2 separate regions of the Homo sapiens genome follow, and region 1 is linked to region 2. A link means that fine-mapping ties the variant in region 2 to the expression of a gene that starts in the linked region. Tissue or cell type: whole blood. Region 2 holds a variant in brackets; the other region holds the start of a gene. Each region is shown on its reference strand, or each on the opposite one.

Region 1 (10,728 bases), not on the chromosome of region 2:
ATCCAAAATACCTTATCACTAATATCCTCAGAGAAACAAGGTCAAATATCGCAAGCATGAAACACAAACAGATTACTAATAAAACAAATATACACAGGCTGGACATGGTGGCCCATGTCTATATTCCCAGCTACTCAGGAGGGTGAGGTAGGAAGGTCACTTGAGTCTAGCAGTTCAAGGCCAGCATGGGCAACATAGCAAGACCCCACCAGTGAAAAAAATATGATAGGAGGAATAATAGCTCAATAGGACTAGAGGAGAAAGTTGAGAAAATCTACTAGAAAACAGAACAAAAGGCAAAATGATGGGAAATTGGAAATAAAATAAAATGGAGAATAAATGAAATCGAGAATGGGAACTGGAGAGCCAGTTTGGGAGACCCAACATCTAAAGTATAAGTTCAAAAAAGAGACACTGAAAAAATAAAGAGAAGGAAATAATCGATGAAATAATTCAAGACATCTTCCCAACACTGAGGGTCATGAATTTCAAGACTGAAAGGACCTACTGAGAGCACTGCACAATTAATAAAAATTGACTACACCTTGGCACATCATTGTGAAATTATGGAAGCTGGGCCAGGGAGAGGCTCCTAAAAGCTTCTGGAGAAAATGTCATGTCATATGAAAATAATCAGGAATGCAAATAGCTCTAGGCTTCTTTATAGCAACACTGCTACCATTGGAGCAGTGCTTTCAAAATTCCGAACCAAAAAAAAAAAAAAATTGATTTCAGAGCTACTATTTAAGTGTATAGATAGATTATAGGCATTTCCAGACATGCAAAGTCTTAAAAACTTCTCCTCCCTCCCACATACCCTTTCTTGCTTAGCCCAAGAAATAAGCCAGGAAATAACAAAACATGAGATCCGGGAAACAAATCTCCAGCACAGCAGAGAGGTAAAAGGAAGACAAAGGATGGTGGTGAAGCAAGAGCTCAGGAGGACCAGGAAAGAAGCCAACAGGACACACTGGAGAGACTCCTTCACACAGTGGAACCGACTGGGAAATGGATGTGTCTGAACTGATAGAGAGGCAATCTGAACAAGTGGTGAAGTTTCGGATTAAACTAATGAAAAATATATAGAAAACCAGACCAATAATATAATCATTATTATATAGAGAAACAACAAAAGGTTTTGTATGGAAGAAAAAAATAATTACAGTATACTATAAATGTCCCCTATGAATAGCATATCCATAACAAAAATCACGTAAACACTGAGTGTCGTTTGCTCGGTCCTAATAAAACTGTACTAGAAGGATGGGGGTGAGAAACGTTTGCAAATGGGAGCAAGACTAGGAAAGAAAATGAAATCCTATCTTCCAGGCCAGGCACGGTGGCTCACGCCTGTAATCCCAGCACTTTGGGAGGCCGAGGCGGGCAGATCACAAGGTCAGGAGTTCGAGACCAGCCTGACCAACATGGTGAAACCCTGTCTCTACTAAAAATACAAAAATTAGCCGGGCGTGGTGGCGCATGCCTGTTATCCCAGCTACTCAGGAGGCTGAGGCTGGAAAATCACTTGAACCTAGGAGGCGGAGGTTGCGGTGAGCCAAGATCATGCCATTGCACTCCAGCCTGGGTAACAAGAGCGAAACTCCGTCTCAAAAAAAAAAAAAAAAAATCCTATCTTCCACAGGGGGAAGCCAATATTTGCCTAAAGCTGAAAAATCATTAAATAAACAATCATGCATGCTATTTTGAGATGCAGTGGTTTAGATTATCAAAGAAAGTAGTGAAAGTTATTGTCTTTCATGAGAGGGAAAGGACAGAAGTGGAGCAGGAAGCAGTTGTTGGTGAGAGATTTGTAGAACTATTTGACTCTTTAAATCATATGCATCTACAGCTTTGATGAGAATATTCGAATTTAAAAGAAAGTAAAAGAGAAGACAGGAAAGAGGAAGGAAGGGAGGGAGGGAGGGAGGGAAACAAAGGCCCGGTGCAGTGGCTCACGCCTGTAATCCCAGCACTTTAGGAGGCTGAGGCAGGTGGACCACCTGAGGTCAGGAGTTTGAGACCAGCCTGGCCAATGTGGCAAAACCTCATCTCTACTAAAAATACAAAAAAATTAGCCGAGCGTGGTGATGGGCACCTGTAATCCCAGCTACTCAGGAGGCTGAGGCAGGAGAATGGCTTGAACCCAGGAGGCAGAGGTTGCAGTGAGCCGAGTTGGTGCCATTGCACTCCAGCCTGGGCAACGGAGCAAGACTCCATCTCAAAAAAAAAAGAAGGCAAGCAGGAGCCAAATCATTCAGGGGCTCAAAGATGGGGTGCACATGACTTAATGGACATTTTAAAATCTCAAGTAAACCCCTTTCCCAGTCAGGGCTCAGATTTCTTCATCTATATCTTGAGGGGTTGGGTGACAACTCCTGTTCAACCTGTCTGAGATCATCATGAGCTGTAGGACAGAATGTAATAAAATATTTACATGATCAAGGGCGATGGTTCTTTTTTTTTTTAACCTTTTAAGTAGGAAGGGTAATGTGCTGTAACAAGATTTGAGACAAGCATGTCTCATATATAAGCATAAAAACCCAATCATCATGCTTACCAAGTACAAAAGGATCAAGGGCAGTGGTTCTAAAGAAGAATCACCCTACTGTAAAATGTAGATTCCCTGGCTAATCTTCTGGGGAGTCTGCCTCCTTGGTGTGAGGCAGGGATGGGGAACTGGCATTTTTTTTTTCTTTTGAGACAGAGTCTCACACTGCTCATTCTGCTGCCCAGGCTGGAGTGCAGTGGCATGATCTCGGCTCACTGGAATCTCTGCGTCCTGGGTTCAAGCGATTCTCCTGCCTCAGTCTCCTGAGTAGCTGGGACCATGGGCACCCACCAACAGGCCCAGCTAATTTTTGTATTTTTAGTAAAGATGGTGTTTTGCCATGTTGGCCAGGCTGGTCTCAAACCCCTGACCTCAAGTGATCCACCCACCTCTGCCTCCCAAAGTGCTGGGATTATAGGCAGGAGTCACATCCAACCCGGAACTGACATTTTTAATAAGCATTCAAAGACATCTGATGCCAGCCATCTGCTTGCCACACGTTGAGCAACGCTACTCCAGGACAAGTCCTTGGAGGTGCAAGATCACAGGTTTAATTGAGATAAAACGGCAAATCAATTCCCCTTTTCAGGGAGAAAGTGTCAATTTGGTATTGATATGTTTTTAGCACCCCTTTAGCGTTAGATAATCTCCTGGAACAGGGAGCTGGCCACAGGCAAAAGAATCTACCTGGAATTGAATTACACTGTTTGGTTTTCATTGCATTCTCCTTTATTCTTACCTTCTATTATGGGAAATGAAACGAATTTTCGATTTACAATAGTGACACAAAGTTTCCTTTAAAATAGATTCACTGAAATTTCTAAGTATCCAAGGATGTATTTTAGGATGAAGAGACAATAAAGCATTTTCACTTTTTCCTAGACTCACTAGATTTTGGCACATGGATACTTGCAATATTGATTTGTATTATGAGAGTGATCTAATTATTACAAAAGGAGCTATAATCACTAACTTATTCTTAATAATAATGGTTACTGGTACCTTTACAATAATGTACAATCCAATGTTTAAAAATGATACCACTTGAGTTTGGTTTGATCCTATAAACTTTCAACAAATGTCTTGGGAGGCCAAGGCAGGCGGATCACAAGGTCAGAGATGGAGACCATCCTGGCTAACACGGTGAAACCCTGTCTCTACTAAAAGTACAAAAAATTAGCCAGGCGTGGTGGTGGGAGCCTGTAGTCCCAGCTACTCAGGAGGCTGAGGCAGGAGAACGGCGTGAACCCGGGAGGCGGAGCTTGCAGTGAGCCAAGATTGCGCCACTGCACTCCAGCCTGGGCGACAGAGCGAGACTCCATCTCAAAAAAAAGAAAAAAGAAAAAAAATTTTTTTTTCAACAAATGTCTTAAAATTTAAAAGCAGGCTGATTAGTTTGGAACCAGACTACAAGTAGAGCTAACATTTGGTGAATAAGAAAACATCACACTACATTTTGGATGTATGAAAGAAAACTTGACCATGTGAAGATATATGAATAAAGAAATGTACTATAGATACTACTTTAGGAAAAAAAAGAGTGATCTATAAATAAAAACATTTGACGTATTTGAAAACGTGTGGGTCTTGCATACGACTCACATGATAAATCTAAAATTCAACCTAGCAATGGATAAGAATTAAGAACGGATGGTTTGGGCAAAGGACATTAACAGACATTGCTCCAAAGGTGATACATAAATGGCCAACAAGCAAATGGAAAGATGCTTAACATTACCGATTATTAGGGAAATGCAGATCAAAACCACAATGAGATACCAGTTCAGGCCCATTAAAATGGCTATTATCAAATAAACAGAAAATAACAAGCATTGGTGGACAAACTGGAACCCTCCTCCTGCATTGCTGGTGGGAATGTAAAATGTTGCGTCCATTGTGGAAAATAGTATGGCGGTTCCTCAAAAAATTAAATATACAGGCTGGGCACAGTGGCTCACGTCTGTAATCCCAGCACTTTGGGAGGCCGAGGTGGGTGGATCGCCTGAGGTCAGGAGTTCAAGATCAGCCTGGTCAATGTGGTGAAACCCCATCTCTATTAAAAATACAAAAATTAGCTGGGCATGGTGGCAGGCGCCTGTAATCCCAGCTACTTAGCAGGCTGAGGCAGGAGAATCGCTTAAACCCAGGAGGCGGAGGTTGCAGTGAGCACAGATTGCGCCACTGCACTCCAGCCTGGGCAACAGAGCGAGACTCGGTCTCAAAAAAAAAAAAAAAAAATTAAACATACTGTTACCATATGATCCAGCAATTCTACTACTAGGTATATATCCTAAAGAATTGAAAGTAAGAACTGGAGCGTGCAATATTGGTTTTCTGTTCCTGTGTTAGTTTGCTAAGGATAATGGCCTCCAGCTCTATCCATGTTCCCACAAAGGACATGATCTCATTCTTTTTTTTTTTTTTTTTGAGACGAAGTCTCGCTCTATCACCAGGGCTGGAGTGCAGTGGCACGATCTTGGCTCACTGCAACCTCCGCCTCCCGGGTTCAAGTGATTCTCCTGCCTCAGCCTCCTGAGTAGCTGGAATTGCAACCTCTGCCTCCCGGGTTCAAATGATTCTCCTGCCTCAGCCTCCTGAGTAGCCGGAATTACAGGCAGTCACCACCACACCCAGCTAATTTTTGTATTTTTAGTAGAGATGGGGTTTCACCATGTTGGTCAGGCTGGTCTCGAACTCCTGACCTCGTGATCTGCCTGCCTCAGCCTCCCAAAGTTCTGAGATTACAGGTGTGAGACACCATGCCTGACCATGATCTCATTCTTTTTCATGGCTGTATAGTATTCCATGGTATATATGGAATATACATGATAAGTCACTCTCACTTCAGTTGGCTTTCATGAAACACTGTGACAGGCACAAGAGGACAAAGTGTCTGCCGGCATCGTTCTCCTCCTACCTCATTGACTGAACTTTGCTGCTTCCACTCCTTTGCATGACTTCCAAATATCAGAGGACCTTAGGGCACAGCTTGTGCCTCTTCTCTTCTCTACTTATAGGATATTCTCTGCCTAGTGATCTCCACCAGCCTGTGGTATAGATGTACCTGTGTGCTTGTGACTCAAAGATGCACACCTGCAGTCCTGAGCTCTATGCCCAGACGTGGGTTCTCCACTTGGATGTCTAATGGCCATCTCAAACTTAGCATCTCCAGACCGAAAACCCCAAATCTGTTATGTTATTCCCCCAAAGCCCAAATCCATAACTTCCCCTTGGCATCTCTCCCCCAAATCCCTCCCTCACTGCACTCTTGCCTTTCCCTCCTCCAACAAGCCAAGCTTTTCCTAACCACAGGGCCTCTTCAGGAACAGTTTCCTCTGCACAAAACTCTGTTCCCCAGACAGATCCTTTCACCTCCTCTGAGGCTCTGAACGCCTCCCTTCCCACCTCTGCTTCTCACTCCTTCACATTAGTCTGTTTCATTTCCTTCATTGCACTTATTATCATCTGAAATTATGTGTTGGTTTACTTATTTTCTCTCACACTTGATTTTTTTTTTTTAGACCGAGATTTGCTCTGTCGCCCATGCTGGAGTGCAATGGCACAACTTCACCTCACTGAAACCTCCGCCTTCCGGGTTCAAGCTATTCTCCTGCCTCAGCCTCCTGAGTAGCTGGGACTACAGGCGCCCGCCACCACGCTTGGCTAATTTTTTTGTATTTTTAGTAGAGATGGGGTTTCACCATGTTGGCCAGCAACTGTGCCTGGCCTCACACTTGATTTTTAATCTCCATGAGAGCAAGCACTAGGTCTTGCCTGGGCCTTTATCAATAGCAGTGAGCATAGCACCTGGCACAGAGGTAGTTCTGAACATTAATTATTGAATGAAATAAAATAATGAATGTAGGCTGGGCGCGGTGGCTCACGCCTGTAATCCCAGCACTTTGGGAGGCCGAGGCAGGCGGATCATGAGGTCAAGAGATCAAGATCATCCTGGCCTACATGGTGGAACCCCGTCTCTACTAAAATACAAAAATTAGCTGGGCATGGTGGCACTCGCCTGTTGTCTCAGCTACTGGGGAGGCTGAGGTAGGAGAATCACTTGAACCCAGGAGGAGGAGGTTCCAGTGAGCCGAGATCATGCTGCTGCACTCCAGCCTGGCGACAGAGCAAGCCTCTGTCTCAAAAATAAATAAATAAATAAATTTTAAAAATAATGAACGCAGGCCCAAGAAGAGTTGTGGGAAATGGGGTGATATTTTTGCATAGACTTCTAAGGCTAAGAAGGAAAACAAACAGACGTGGTGGGCACAAATCTACCCCCACCCCAACTGGGTCCCAACTCTAGGCTCTCTGGCCTGGCACCACCACTGAAAGGCCCCGTTCCCCAAACCTCAGGGTATTCTTAGTCCCTCCTGTTCCCAGCGCTGCCAATCCCCCGCCCACCCCCACTTTAGTTGCGTGTTCCAGCCTCTCCGCCCCGCCCCTCCCCGCCCTGAAACGGACGTGCTTTTTAGAGGAGTCCACTGGGCTTGGAGTCAGTGGCAATAACCAGGGGCAATAACCAGGCGTGTCCCAGGGGGGAGCCCCGCTCTGCAGCCCTGTGCGCCGTAGAGAGCTGGACTTAGGCTGGCAGCATGGCCGAGTTCAGGGTCAGGGTGTCCACCGGAGAAGCCTTCGGGGCTGGCACATGGGACAAAGTGTCTGTCAGCATCGTGGGGACCCGGGGAGAGAGCCCCCCACTGCCCCTGGACAATCTCGGCAAGGAGTTCACTGCGGGCGCTGTGAGTGCGTGGGAGTGGATGGGGTGGAGGTGAAGGGGGCGAGCAGGAGGGTCCGGCCTGACGCATACTTAACCTCCCCTCAGGAGGAGGACTTCCAGGTGACGCTCCCGGAGGACGTAGGCCGAGTGCTGCTGCTGCGCGTGCACAAGGCGCCCCCAGTGCTGCCCCTGCTGGGGCCCCTGGCCCCGGATGCCTGGTTCTGCCGCTGGTTCCAGCTGACACCGCCGCGGGGCGGCCACCTCCTCTTCCCCTGCTACCAGTGGCTGGAGGGGGCGGGGACCCTGGTGCTGCAGGAGGGTACAGGTGAGGGGCGGGCCGGGCTGGGGCTGCAGGGGGAGCACAGGAAGGGGTAGGGGACTGGGGGTTGGGGAGAAGGGCAGGTGAAATGGAGAGGTGAGCTGGTGTGGCCACAGAGTAGCGGGCAGAGGAGAGGGAATGGCGGAGCCTTGGGGAGCGGGAGGTAGCAGCCTGGTGTAGGAGAAACTGTACTTATGGGAGGAGGGGACCTGGTAGAGGGTGGCAATCGTGGAGACTGTGTGGCTGGTGGTAGTGATGGTGAGTTTCTCTCCCCACCCCAACCTACTCCCCTTCTCCCACAGCCAAGGTGTCCTGGGCAGACCACCACCCTGTGCTCCAGCAACAGCGCCAGGAGGAGCTTCAGGCCCGGCAGGAGATGTACCAGTGAGGAGGGGGTTACTGATGGGGGAGGGTGTGCCCAAACGATGAGGGGCAGCTTGAGTGTCCTGGTCATGACAGAGATTAAAAGCCCCTGCCTCCACCTCTCCTATCAAAGCTGCTCCTGGGATCAGCAGCGTCTACAGGAACGTATTAGAAATGCAAATTCTCAGGCCACCTCCAACCTACTACGACACTGAGGGTGTAGAGTGGGAATTTTTGTTTTGACAAGCCTTCCAGATGACTCTGGTGGCCACTGATGTTTGAAAAACACTGCTCTAGGGCCAGGTGCCGTGGTGGCTCACACCTGTAATCTCAGCACTTTGGGAGGCTGAGGGAGGCGGATCACTGGAGGTCGGGAGTTCGAGACCAGCCTGGCCAACAGGGCGAAACCCCATCTCTACTAAAAATACAAAAATCAGCTGGGTAGGGTGGCGGGCACCTGTATTCTCAGCTACATGGGAGGCTGAGGCAGAAGAATAGCTTGAACCCGGGTGGTGGAGGTTGCAGTGAGCCGATCACGCCATTGCACTCCAGCATGGGGGACAGAGCAAAACTCCATCTCAAAAAAAGAAAAAAAAAAAGGAAGGAAGGAAAAGGAAGGAAAGAGAGAAAGAAAGAGAGAGAAAGAAAGAAAGAAAGAAAGAAAGAAAGAAAGAAAGAAAGAAAGAAAGAAAAGAAAGAGAAAGAAACTGCTTTAAATGCCTTACCTTTGCTGGTGTCTTCCTTGCCCTGGGACTTTTTCATGCATCGGCTTGTTGTGTCCTCCCAGAAATCTGAGTAGAGCCAGAAACACGCCCTTCAAGCCCCAGGAAACTCACCCTCCAGGGCTAGCAAGGGGTGAGATGGGGGCTCTCTCTGTGCTCTGGGCTCAGCATTGGAGATCACAGGGGAAAACTGGGACTTGGAGATAACAGAGGAGTTGGGGCCGCTAGTGAGGATTCCCTTGGCACAAAGCCAGGAACTGCATTCAGAAACAGATTTTCAAAAGATCTTGATCCGGCCAACTCATCTGCTATCTAAAGCCTGGGCTGCAGGCTTTTGCTCCTGGTCTGTGGGATCAGAGCAGCCACAGGCTCATTTGGTTCCTGGTGATTCTCCATGTGTCATGAATTCCACCCCTAAGGAAACCATTGCACCAAATCTGGCAGCAACAGCCCCAAGAGAGGGAATAGACATTGAGATCTACTGTGTCCATGGAGACCCAGAGTCAGCCTAGGCCCTGCCAAAACGAGCTGTGAGATCTTAGACCAATTTTTTCATCTCTTCAATTCTTATTTTCTTCTGTAAAAGAAACTAAGAATACCAATCTCGTTTGGGTTAGGAGGAACAAATGAGAAAATGGTTAAGAATGTAGGTGGTCAGCTGCTAAGTCTTGCACAACTGTGTGCTCTTGCTGTTGTTCCTGTCTTTCAGTTCACTCTGTTCCAACACTCTAGGCTCTTATAAAACGTACAGTGAGGTCTCAGATCCATTGCAACAGCATTGCCTGGGAGCTTGTTAGAAATCAGAATCTGCATTTAACCAAGATCTCTATGTGAGAGGGATTCAAGTCTGAGAGGAAGGGTTTGGCCACCACCTGGTGGCAGTGTACTTTAATTGCAAATTTTTCTTTGAAGTTGAAAGCTCAAACCCAAAAGCAAGTTTTGAATGAATCAAAGAATGAATGAGTGAGAGCATGACTGGCTAGGGGTCATCAAGTTTGCAGATACATGAATTTACCATTTCCCTGGAAGGTCTTTGGCTGTGTTGCTTGTTTGAGAATAGAATTTAGAGATGCCTCGGGCGGCTCCCCCTAAACTATGAAGGCTGAAGTGCCTCTCTATGGGACACCTACCAAAGGCAACTGAAACCTTCTGCGCAGCCCCTGTCCCAGGATAGTCTCGCCTCTACAAGATGCGTCTGTGTTAGTCGGGACTTCTATAGTTGCAAGAACAAAAGCTAACTCCAACTAGCAGGCAGAAAAAAAGTTTGTCGGCCAGACACAGAGGCACTTACAGAAACACAGGCAGGAATTGTCCACCCAGTGGAAAATGGCCATAACTAACAGTCTGTGTTTACTGCTATAATCTACATATCCAGAGAGAGACCACCTCTCTGGCTCAGCCCCAATGGCAAATTCCCTGGAAAGGACTCTGATTGGCCCAGCTCTAGTCAGGTGCTCAACTCTGGACCAATCACCCTTGACCAGGGGAGCCATCTCACTGTGGGAAAATGGCAGCTCCCTTGCAGCCTCCTTGGGTAGAATGGAAGGGCAGCTCCCAGGAGGGCCCTCTTGGCTGAAGGGGTCTGGCTGTGACCAGGCCCCCCAAGGGGACTGCCACTCCATCTGCCCTAGCAAAGAGTCTCCCTGAGGCCTCTTGCTGACCACCTTCCCTCTCTACCCTCCAGGTGGAAGGCTTACAACCCAGGTTGGCCTCACTGCCTGGATGAAAAGACAGTGGAAGACTTGGAGCTCAATATCAAATACTCCACAGCCAAGAATGCCAACTTTTATCTACAGGCTGGCTCTGCGTGAGGATGCCCACCCTTCCCTGCCCCTGGGCCTCAGATGCCCTATGACCTCTGCCTTCTGCCCTCCCCTAGTCAGTTCCCCCACCCTCAGTGATATGAGTCACATAGTCCTGCCCAGGAAACAGCCTCCTTCCCACTACCAATCCCACAGAGCAACAGCTACCTTAGGGGTAGTGACTACCTTGGGCCCGGAGGCTGGTTCAGGATCCCAAGAGGCATAAGGCTGGCTGACAGGGAAGGGTCTCCCAG
Region 2 (11,194 bases):
CTGCAGTAGGAAAGCACAATCTACTTTGTGTCTCTATAAACTTGCCTTTTCTGGATACTTCATATACATGGGATCATGTAGTATGCGGCCTTTAATGTTTGGCTTCTTTCACCTAGCATAATGTTCTCAAGGTTCCCCCATGTTGTAGCATGTATCAGTATGTTATTCCTTTTTTATGGCTTAATAATATCCCATTGTACAGATATACCGTATTTTTAAAATCTGTTCTTCATTTGACGGACATTTGGGCTATTTCCAATTTGGAATATTATGAATAATTTTGCTAAGAATATTCATGTACAAGTTTTTGTGTGAACATGTTTTCATTTCTCATGACTATATACCTAGAAGTAGTATTGCTTGGTCACAGAGTAACTCTATGTTTAACCTTCAAAAGAACTGCCAAAGTGGTAGCACCATTTCATAGTCTCACTGGCAATGTATTAGCGTTCCAATTTCACCAGTTCTCCAATTTCTCCACATCCTCCCTAATACTAGTTATTTTCCATGCATTTTATTTTAGTGGGCATGGAATGGTAACTCATTGTAGCATTTCCCTCATGACTAATGGTGTTAAGTATCCTTTTGTGTGCTTACTGGCCATCTGCCTATCTTTTTTGGAGATAAATATTCTTTGTCCATTTTAAAATTGGGTTGTCGTTTATTATTGAGTTATAAGAGTTCTTTATATATTCTGGACACTCCACTCTTATCAGATGTATAATACGCAAATATTTTCTCCCATTCTGTGGGTTGTCTTTATACTTTCTTGATTGTGTCCTTTGAAAAACATTTTTTTTCTTGATGCTGGTTAAGCTTTATTTAAAAAAAATTTTTTTTAACTTTTCTAAGACAGCTTCTTGCTCTGTCGCCCAGGATGGAGTGCAGTGGTGTAATCATAGCTCACTGCAGCCTTGAATTCCTGGGCTCAAACAATCCTCCAGCTGCAGCCTTCCGAGTAGCTGGGACTACAGGTGCATGTCACTATGCCCAGCCAGACATTTTTAATTTTGATCGAGTCTAATTTATCAGTTTTTTTCATTCCCAGTCTAATTTATCAATTTTTGTATTGCTTGTACCTTAGGTGTCATATCTAACTAAATGTTATCTAATCCAAGGTACAAAAATTTACCCAGGTCCTCTTCTACAAGTTTTATAGTTTTAGCTTTTACATTTAGGTTTTTAAGACATTTTGAGTCATCTGAATATGGTATGAGATGGGGATCACATTCATTCTTTTGCATGTGGATATCCAGTTGTCCCCGTACCATTTGTTGAAGGCTATTCTTTCTCTACTGAATTGTCTTGGCACCTTTATTAAATGTGGGGGTTTATTTCTGTACAATCAATCCTAATCTGCTGATTTATGTGCCTAACCTTATGTCAATGCCACAAGCTCTAATTTACTGTTGCTTTGCATTAAGTTTTGAAATTGGGACCTGTGGGGCCTCCAACTTTGTTCTTTTTCAAGATTGTTTTGGCTATTATGGGTCCCTCACATTTCCATATGTATTTTAAGATCTGCAAAAAAAAAAAAAAAAAAAAGCTAGAAGGGATTTAACAGAGGTTGTGCTGAATCTATAGATTAATTAATTTGGGGAATACGTCATCTTAACAATAGTTAAGTCTTCCAGTGATGAACACAGGAGATCTTTCCATTTATTTAGGCCTATAATTTCTTCAAAAAATGTTTGATAATTTTCAGTGAACAACTCTTGCAGTTCCTTTGCTAAATTTATTCCTAAGTATTTTATTCTTTTTGATGCTATCATAAATGAAACTGTTTTCTTAATTTCATTTAGATTTTTCACTGCTAGTGTACAATTTCTGTATGATGACCTTTTGTCCTGAAACCTTGCTAATAGACAAGCTTTAATTTGCATGTGTGTGGATTCCTTAGGATTTTTCTATATTTAAGATCATGTCATCAGAAAATAGAGATAGTTTTGCATCTTCCTTTACTGGATAACTTTTATTTTTTATTCTTCTCTAGTTGGCCTACTAGGAACTCCAGTACAATGTTGAATAGGAGTGACAAGAGTGGATTTCCTTGTCTTGTTCCTGATTTTAGAGAGAAAGATTTCAGTCCTTTACCATCAAGTATATTGTTGACTCTGGATTTTCCACTGAGGTTGAGAAATTTCCCTTCCATTCTTAGTTTTTTTTCACATAAAATAGCATTAGATTTTGTCAAATGCCTCTTTTGTATCTGCTTAATAATGTGGGTTTTGTTCTTTAGTCTATTCACACAGTATATTACATTACAATGGTCCTCCCTCATTAGCAGTTTTGCTTTCTGTGGTTTCAGTTACCTGTGGTATAGTACACTAACGTATTTTGAGAGCAATCACATTCACTTAACTTTTATTATGGTCTATTGTTATAATTGTTATCTCTTATGATATCTAATTTATAAATTAAACTTTATCACAGGTATGTATGTATAGGAAAAAACAGAATCCATAGGGTTTAGTACTAACCATGGTTTCAGGCATCCACTGGGGGTCTTGGAATGCATCCTCCTCAAATTTGAGGAGGGGAGTACTGTAATTGATTTTTATAGGTTGAAAAATACATACTCTGTTTTAGAATTCTGTAAGTTATACAGAACAACACTTAAAAGAGTTATTGTAAATATAGAGCAAAATAACTGGCATGAAAGCCTACTTCCTACTTAAGACAGAAGAGTGTCCCCTAGATTTCTGTGTGACAGTATGAATGGTTCAAGGATATCTGTTTCAGGTATTGCTTTGTATGTTTTACTATTTCATCCATATTTTCTGTTCCCATCCACTATAAATAAAGCTAACAAGGAGGAAACTGAAGTAGACAAAGAATTGAGAAAGAGGTTGTGACTAACAAACTACATTATCAACTCCTAATTCACTGACAATAAATGCTAATATGAATCATTGATAGCAATCTTAATGTGAGTAATACATTAGTAGTATTGGCAATAAAACATGTCCCTTTTTGGAAGGATAGATGGAAAACACATTAGGTTGGTGCAAAAGTAACCGCAGTTATTGCCATTAATAAGTAAAAAGGAGAGTAAAGACAGAAAAGGGTAAGCAGTAGTACAGCTAAAAATGGAGAAATGATAATAGCTGTAATGAACCACAAAATGATGCTGTGGTCAACAATGGACCACATATGTAATGATAGTCCCATACGATTATAATATTGTATTTTTACTGTACTTTTTCTATGTTTAGACATACAAATAATTAACACTGTGTTACAAATGCCTACATACTCAGCATGGTAGCATACTCAGTATGATAGCATGCTGTACAGTTTGTAGCCTAGGAATAATAAGCTATATCATACAACCTAGGTGTGGAGTAGGCTATACATCTAGGTTTGTGCATGTATACAATATGATGTTCACACAACAATGAAATTCCCAAACAACAGATTTCTCAGAATTAATTCCTGTCATTAAGTAATGCATGACTTTAATCCCAGCTAAAATCTATCCTTCTCACGAGGGAAGCACTTCCTGCTCCTGACCTCCTTCTCCATCAAGCCCTAAATACATGGTTGATAGGAACTTGGAATTCAACTGCAAACTGACAACTGTTACCAAAATTTTTCTCTTCTATTCACAGAGTGTATAACTTTTTCTTTCCTTTCTTGCATGAAAAAGCTTTCATGTAGACTCGTTTAAGATACAGAAGAGGCTGGGTGCAGTAGCTTACACCTGTAATCCCAGCACTTTGGGAGGCCGAGGCAGATGGATTGCTTGAGGTCAGGAGTTCGAGACCAGCCTGGCCGACATGGTGAAACCCCATCTCTACTAAAAATACAAAAATTAGCTGGACTTGGTGGCGGGCGCCTGTAATCCCAGCTACTCAGGAGGCTGAGGCAGGAGAATCACTTGAACCTGGGAGGTGGAGGTTGCAGTGAGCCAAGATGGCGCCACTGCACTCAAGCCTGGGCAACACAGTGAGACTCTGTCTCAAAAAAAAAAAAAAAATACAGAACAGTTTGGTAATTAAAACTGGGTTACACAAAGCCTTCTGTGTGTGTGTGTGCACATGTATATATGTGTATATTTTTCTTATCTATGTATATAGCTTTTCTTATATAATAGAAATGCTCCCTTGAAAAATATTTGAAAAGTATGAATGGACAGCCTACTATGTGCAATTGCTATGTAATATGGTCATTTACACACCACACACCCTATCCTTAATAGGCAGTCAATTTCTTAAGGATGGGATCCACACATGACACTTAATATTTTGTCTTGTGTACGTGGTAGCAGAAAAAAATATTTTCTGAGAAAACTAAATGAGATTTGGGTTCTAATTCGCCTTCCATCACTTCTTAGCCATGTGACCATGAAAAGACAGTTAAAACTTTGGGTCACAAGTCTATCATCTGTAATCCAGGAAAACTGTGCTGGGATTTCTGGGCCTATGATTAAAGGGAGGGCCAGCCATGTCCTAGAGTTTCTGGTGACCCTCTTCCAAAGTAGCAAGACACTTCACCTATGAGCAGACAAAAGAAGAGACAGGGTTTAAACTAGCCCATATAGTACATATGAGTGAATTAGAAAAAAGGTCCCTCTTCCTCTAGGTCAATGAAGCTCCATGCCAAGGCACGCGGCACAGTGAATAGAGCACAGCTAGGTTTCAGCAGTACACAGCTCTCAGTGTAGCACCCTTGTGGCAACCTCATAATTATCAGAGGGCCTGGAGATGCTGGTGCCAACAGAGGCACAGAGTAGCCATGGCATGGCAGCACTACTGGGCAGATCTAACAGGATCTTTTTCCTACCCTCCTTTGAAACCCACTGCATGCTATGAACCAGATTACCCTGGGGGAAGCAAGCTAAATATACACCAGATAAAAATATAGGCCAGGCGCAGTGGCTCACACCTGTAATTCCAGCAATCTGGGAGGACAAGGCGGGTGGATCACGAGGTCAAGAGATTGAGACCATTCTAGCCAACATGGTGAAACCCCGTCTCTACTAAAAATACAAGAATTAGCTGGGCGTGGTAGCATGCGCCTGTAGTCCCAGCTACTAGTGAGGCTGAGGCAGGAGAATCGCTTGAACCCGGGAGGCAGAGGTTGCAGTGAGATGAGATTATGCCACTGCACTCCAGCCTGGCGACAGAGCAAGACTCCGTCCAAAATAAAAATAAACCCAGTGTGGGTCTTAGAAAGACTCTAAGTGGCATACTCAGTGGAGTTTTTTGGGCGGGCTCCACTGGGAAAGCCGAGAATTGCCTGTTCTGCAATGAGGATGAGGATGCAAGGAAAGAAGATCAGGCCTCCCCTAGTCACTGAACATAATAAAGAGAGATGAGTGATATTTTTAAACAAAAACTGCCTAGTAAATTCTCGGGTTCCACAAATTACTTTCTGTTAACTTAGATTGTTAACTAAACTGGTTGGTTTAATCTCTGAAATATTTTTAATATAAATAATATGTTAAAGACTATCACTTTTCCCCATCTTTGCTGAGCCACCACCATCTTTTGGTAGAACTATTACAATAGCTTCCTGACTGGTCTTCTTCCTTCCCTCTTGCTATCTTACAATCAAGTCTCCACTTTTACCTACATCAATCACATCCCATGACTCCCCTGCTATAAATTTCTTTCATGCAGAGCTTTTCAACACAGTAGAAGTCATTATTTCAAACCTCAGGTCTGTTCCAACTATATCCATGGAAGCTCTGGTTCATCCAGCCACTTTCAGACTCAGATGAGATGCCACATCACTGGACATGCGATCTGGCTTCCCTAGCAGCTGCCCAAGGGTTGTGCCAACACCTGCCCAAATTGTGGTAATGCCCCAAGGATGAACTTTGACCAGTAAAAGACAAACATATTGGGCTGTTCCAAAAGGTGGTAGTTTCACATGGTCTGGCTAGAAGATGCACCATGTACAAGACAACCAGCTCAGATTTTCTGCAAGGTTAAGGTTCCCTTGGTAATATCATTCATCTTTCCTTGCCTCACTTCCCTTTTTCTTTCATTCCTGCTGGTCTTGGTTAGTACCA[C/T]TCAATAAAATGTTAGGACCCGGGCTTTACTTCCAGCTCTGTTTAATAAGAAAATAGGGCCAAAACCCTAGAAGGTAGGTAAAATGTACCTTCTTTGTATTCTTAAAATACCCAAACATCTCCTCTACAATAGCACACATTCTGGAGTTGGACAGGTAATAGTTTTGTGTCCTTAGGCAGAGTTATTTCATCTCTCTGAGCCTTGTTTTCTTCATCTGTAAAATGAGGATTATAACAGAACATACCTGGATAACAGAAGCTACTAAGATAATCAATGCAATGTAAATTATGCCAGGTACATGAGAAATACTCAATAAGACAGCCATTATTATGATTATGTGTTATCTATCCTTGTATTTCTAGTGCTTAACATAACATCTACAATACAGTAAGCAGATATGTCTAATGCCGAAAATATTTACATACTACATTTCCCTATATTTTAAGAATGCCTACTAGGTAGCAAAGTTTGAGAGATCTGTATGGTTTCAATACGAAAGACTAAGGAGTCTGTAAAAACAAATTAAATATATACATGAATGCTTTCTGAAAAATGTTTCTTTACTGCAAGTTAAAATTAAGTTCATTTTACATGTGTGTTTTCCCTAACTTATCAGGAAAAACAATCAAGTCAAAAGTACAGATGTAGCCAGCTTTAGGCACAGTTATATTCCCAAGAGGATGTGTACAAATCAAAGTTCTGCAAATCAAACCGTATTTCGTATGCATTAAGGAAAAATCACACTTAAAATCACTTCAACAGAGAATGCTTTTGTAAATTGTTTTTGTAAGTGAATACTTCTTCACATCCATTAAATAGGTTGACTCATAAATTTTATCTTAGATTTTTATACAGAAGAAAATATAACCATTGATAATATTAAGTAACAGTGTTGATCATTATAGCTATGATATTTATTTCCTCTAGTAAAGCAAACTAAATAGAAATGTTTCCTTCATAAAGTGTTAAAAAGGAAGATCCCAAGAAATAAAATTATTAGTATTATGAAATTAGAAAGAAAATAAAAACATTTATATATATTTATGCAGCCTTTTGTGGATATGTATGCATACATGTACTATGCACATGTAAAGCCCACACATAAAAAAAGAGAAAGAAAATGAATCAGAATGCTCATATCTGTACGGTAATTTAACAGGTGACTTTTACTGTTCTTATTATGCTTTTCTTTATTTTCAAAATTTCTGCAGTGCACATGTATTACTGTTTAGGGTCTCAAAAAATAGTCTTTTCAAAAAAAAAATGAATCACTCATTTCTGATAGTTTGAATTTTACTAAAAAGTTGGACGAATCACCAGGCTTCACTCTCAGAAAGTCCTTTCACGGAAAATATTTCTTGGTTCATCTGGAACTAATGGCTTCAAGAAAGCAATATTGATATTTCTGACAATCACTTTTATGATCTCCAGTATTCCTGATGGTCAAGCCACATTCCTACCTCTCTGACTCTACTGACAGTATAAAGGCATTGCTCTACTTCCTGTAAGTATAAAAGGTAAACTCTGTGTCCTCAAGAGTAGTTATGCAATGCTCTTAGACAGAATTCCAGAAGTGTGTATCTCTTACAGGAAGACGCACAATTTTCTAGGCAAGAGTTGGCAACCTCAAAGGATTCCTCTTCACAATGGGAGTCTGTGCCTTTGGCTTTCACTGCAAAATACTTACTCTCAATTAGAGGCTTATCATACAGGTAAGAAATGGTTTGTGCAGCTTACTAACTGGAAAGCCTGACTTTCTAGTAAATACTCCACTCTGCAGGTAATGTATTAAGATCTAGCTTCTTTTCTCTTCTCCCTTTGCCAGACTTTTTACTTTAAGCCACATTTCAAGCATCTATAATTATTCTCCTTACTCTAGAAGACATGATATAGGAAAACAAACTATAATGTTTCTCCCAGAAATCATAAGAAAACACACGAAAAATTACTTTCTTAAATCCAACAATTGTACTGGGTATTGCCCATTATCTTTAAAGTTTTGAATCAAAATGCTTCTGGACAGTGAACATATTACAAAAGAAAATGCGACTCAGTATTTAACCTCTTCCATTTCAATGTTTTGCGAGTGTCTCGTTTTTTCAAACTTTTGATAGAGTTTATTTGTAGCACTAACTTAACATACTAACAGCAGAGTCCACAGCATCCAAAATACAGACACATTTATACGCTCAGAGTTGTTTTGTTTCCAGATCAACATAATTAATCATTAGGGAAATGCAAATCAAAATCAGAATGAGATGCCACTTCACACCCATTAAGATGGCTATTATCAAAAAAAAAAAGATAACGAGTATTGGTAAAGATCTAAACAAACTGGAACTTGTGCATGGCTGATGGGAGTATAAAATGGTGCTGCTGCTGGGGAAGAAGTTTGTTCATTCCTCAAAAAGTTAAACATGGAATTACCATATGATATACCCAAAAGAACTAAAATGACTCAGATAATTTATACATTATAATTCATTGCAGCATTATTCATAATAGCCAAAAAGTGGAAACAACCTAAACGTCCATCAACAGATGAATTTGGATAAAGAAAATGTGGTAGTTCAACATCACTGATGATTAGAGAAATACAAATCAAAACCACAATGAGATACCATCTCACGCCAGTCAGAATGGTGATTACTAAAAAGTCAAGAAACAACAGATGCTGGTAAGGCTGTGGAGAAATAGGAAAACTTTTACACTGTTGGTGGAAATGTAAATTAGTTCAACCACTGTGGAAGACAGTGTGGTGATTCCTCAAGGATCTAGAACCAGAAATACCATTTGACCCAACAATGCCATTACTGGATATATACCCAAAGGAATATAAATCATTCGACTATAAAGATATATGAAACATATGTTTATTGCAGCACTATTTACAATAGCAAAGACATGGACCCAAACCAAATGCCCATCAATGATAGACTGGATAAAGAAAATGTAGTACATATACACCATGGAATACTATTCAGCCATAAAAAGGAATGAGATCATGTCCTTTGCAGGGACATGGATGAGGCTAGAAGCCATCATCCTCAGCAAACTAACACAGGAACAGAAAACCAAACACTGCATGTCCTCACTCATAATTGGGAGCTGAACAGTGAGAACACATAGACACAGAAAGGGGAACAACACACACCAGGGCCTGTTGGAGTCAGGAAGGGAGGGAGAACATCAGGACAAATAGCTAATGCATGCCGGGCTTAAAACCTAGATGACAGGCTGAGCGTTATGGCTCATGCCTGTAATCCCAACACTTTGGGAGGCCAAGGTGGGCAGATCACGAGGTCAGGAGTTCGAGACCAGCCTGGCTAACATAGTGAAACCCTCTCTCTACCAAAAATACAAAAATTAGCTGGGTGTGGTGGCATCCACTTGTAGTCCCAGCTACTCGGGAGGCTGAGGCAAAAGAATCACTTGAACCCAGGAAGCAGAGGTTGCAGTGAGCTGAGATCACACCACTGCACTCCAGCCTGGGTGACAGAGCAAGACTCCAACTCAATTAAAAACAAACAAACAAACAAAAAACTAGATGACAGGTTGGTAGGTGCAGCAAACCACCATGGCACGCTTATATCTATGTAAAAAACCTGCACATTCTACACATGTATCCTGGAACTTAAATAAAAATTAAAAAAAGAAAATGTGGGATGTGTGTATACTGATAAACCAATATACACACACAGCCCCCCACCCCACACAGTATGGATCAACCCTTCATATACTACATGAAAGAAGCCAATAACATAAGGACAAATATTGTACGATTCCATTTATATGAGGTATTAGACCAGGCAAATCCACAGAGACAGAAAGGAGAATAGAGGTTACTAGGGGTGAGGGAGATGAGAGATGGGAGTTAGTGTTTAATGAGTACAGAGCTTCTGCTCGGGATGATGAAAATGTTCCAGAAATGCACAGTGCTGATAAATGTTGTTGTGAATGCACATAATGCCACTGCATTGTATATACTTAAAAAAACGGTTAAAGTGGTAAATTGAAAAGAAATATAACTGGCTATTTAAAGAAAAATAACAACAATGTAGTGTAAGTTTACAACACACATAAAAGTAAAATGTGTAACAATAACAGCACATAGATTGGGAGGAGAGAAACAGAAGTGCACTATTATTAAGTTCTTATACTTTAAGTGACATGGTGTAATATCACTTGAGAGTAGTCTGTGATCAGTCAAACATACATACTGTAAACCCTAAAGCAATCAATAAAATTAAAAAAAAAAGAAAGATGGCTAACAAGCCAACAAATGAGTGAAAATGGAACCATGAAATATCAAGAATCAAAAATGTAGCTTGATCCAAAGATTTCTAAGAAAATTCATGGTAAAGGGCAGGAAATATTTTTTATCACCCAGTGAAAGATTAGTTTATTAAAACCTACTCAGAAGCATAATTAAATCAATGAAAATAAATAGTGACAGCACTTACTGCCCAGACCGGTGATGTAAAACCCAGAATTGCAGCCTTAGCTCCATCAGCAACATAAGGAATAATATTTTCTCCCAGGCGCGTATCTCTGAACAATGCTCTAAGGATATTTAAAGCATGAACCTAAAACAAGAAGTTCAAAATTAGTTGTGGGTTGAAAACCATGGCTAATTCTAAATCTACACATATCCAATAGTACAGCTTCAAAACAAAAAATTTACTGAATTACAAGAAATGGATAATCCGCAAATGAAATAGCAGATTTAATAAAACACATCCAGTAGCTGATAAACCATTTTACAAAAAATTAGTAAGATTCAAACAATGCTATAAAAAAGTTTGATCCAATGGACATATGTAGAAGCCTGCACCTAAAATACAGAGACAACACATTCTTTTCGAGCACACATGAAACATTTATTTTCTAAAATCCCTCATACCTAGCCACAAATAAAGTCTCAACAAATACCAAGTAATTAATAACTTATAGATTATGCTCTGATCACCATGGAATTAAGAAACTTTAAAAAAAACTTTATTTTTTATTTTATTTTATTTTATTAGATGGAGTTTCACTCTTGTCGCCCAGGCTGGAACAGAATGGCACAGTCTCGGCTCACTACAACCTCCACCTCCCAGGTTCAAGCGATTCTCCTGCCTCAGCCTCCCGAGTAGCTGCGATTACAGATATGTGCCACCACGGCCGGCTAA

What was found. PIP is the estimated chance that this variant, and not a neighbour inherited with it, causes the effect. A credible set is the group of variants that fine-mapping cannot tell apart.
Region 1: ALOX15B starts here. The variant in region 2 is the best candidate, but not a certain one, in a credible set for the expression of ALOX15B in whole blood (TOPMed, PIP 0.52).

What each region holds. Positions count from the first base shown.
Region 1 is chr17:8,032,013-8,042,740 of GRCh38, forward strand. It overlaps ALOX15B (arachidonate 15-lipoxygenase type B), which reads left to right and starts at 7,047. Exons shown (of 14, transcript NM_001141.3): 1 at 7,047-7,290; 2 at 7,374-7,593; 3 at 7,890-7,971; 4 at 10,357-10,479. The coding sequence starts at 7,144. It also overlaps the pseudogene LOC124904131.
Region 2 is chr2:43,488,350-43,499,543 of GRCh38, forward strand. THADA (THADA armadillo repeat containing) reads right to left here. Exons shown (of 38, transcript NM_022065.5): 25 at 10,484-10,606. It also overlaps the pseudogene RN7SL531P. Among named protein-coding and RNA genes, the nearest start is that of THADA, 100 kb to the right of the region's middle. The variant C/T (reference allele first, on the strand shown) is at 6,020.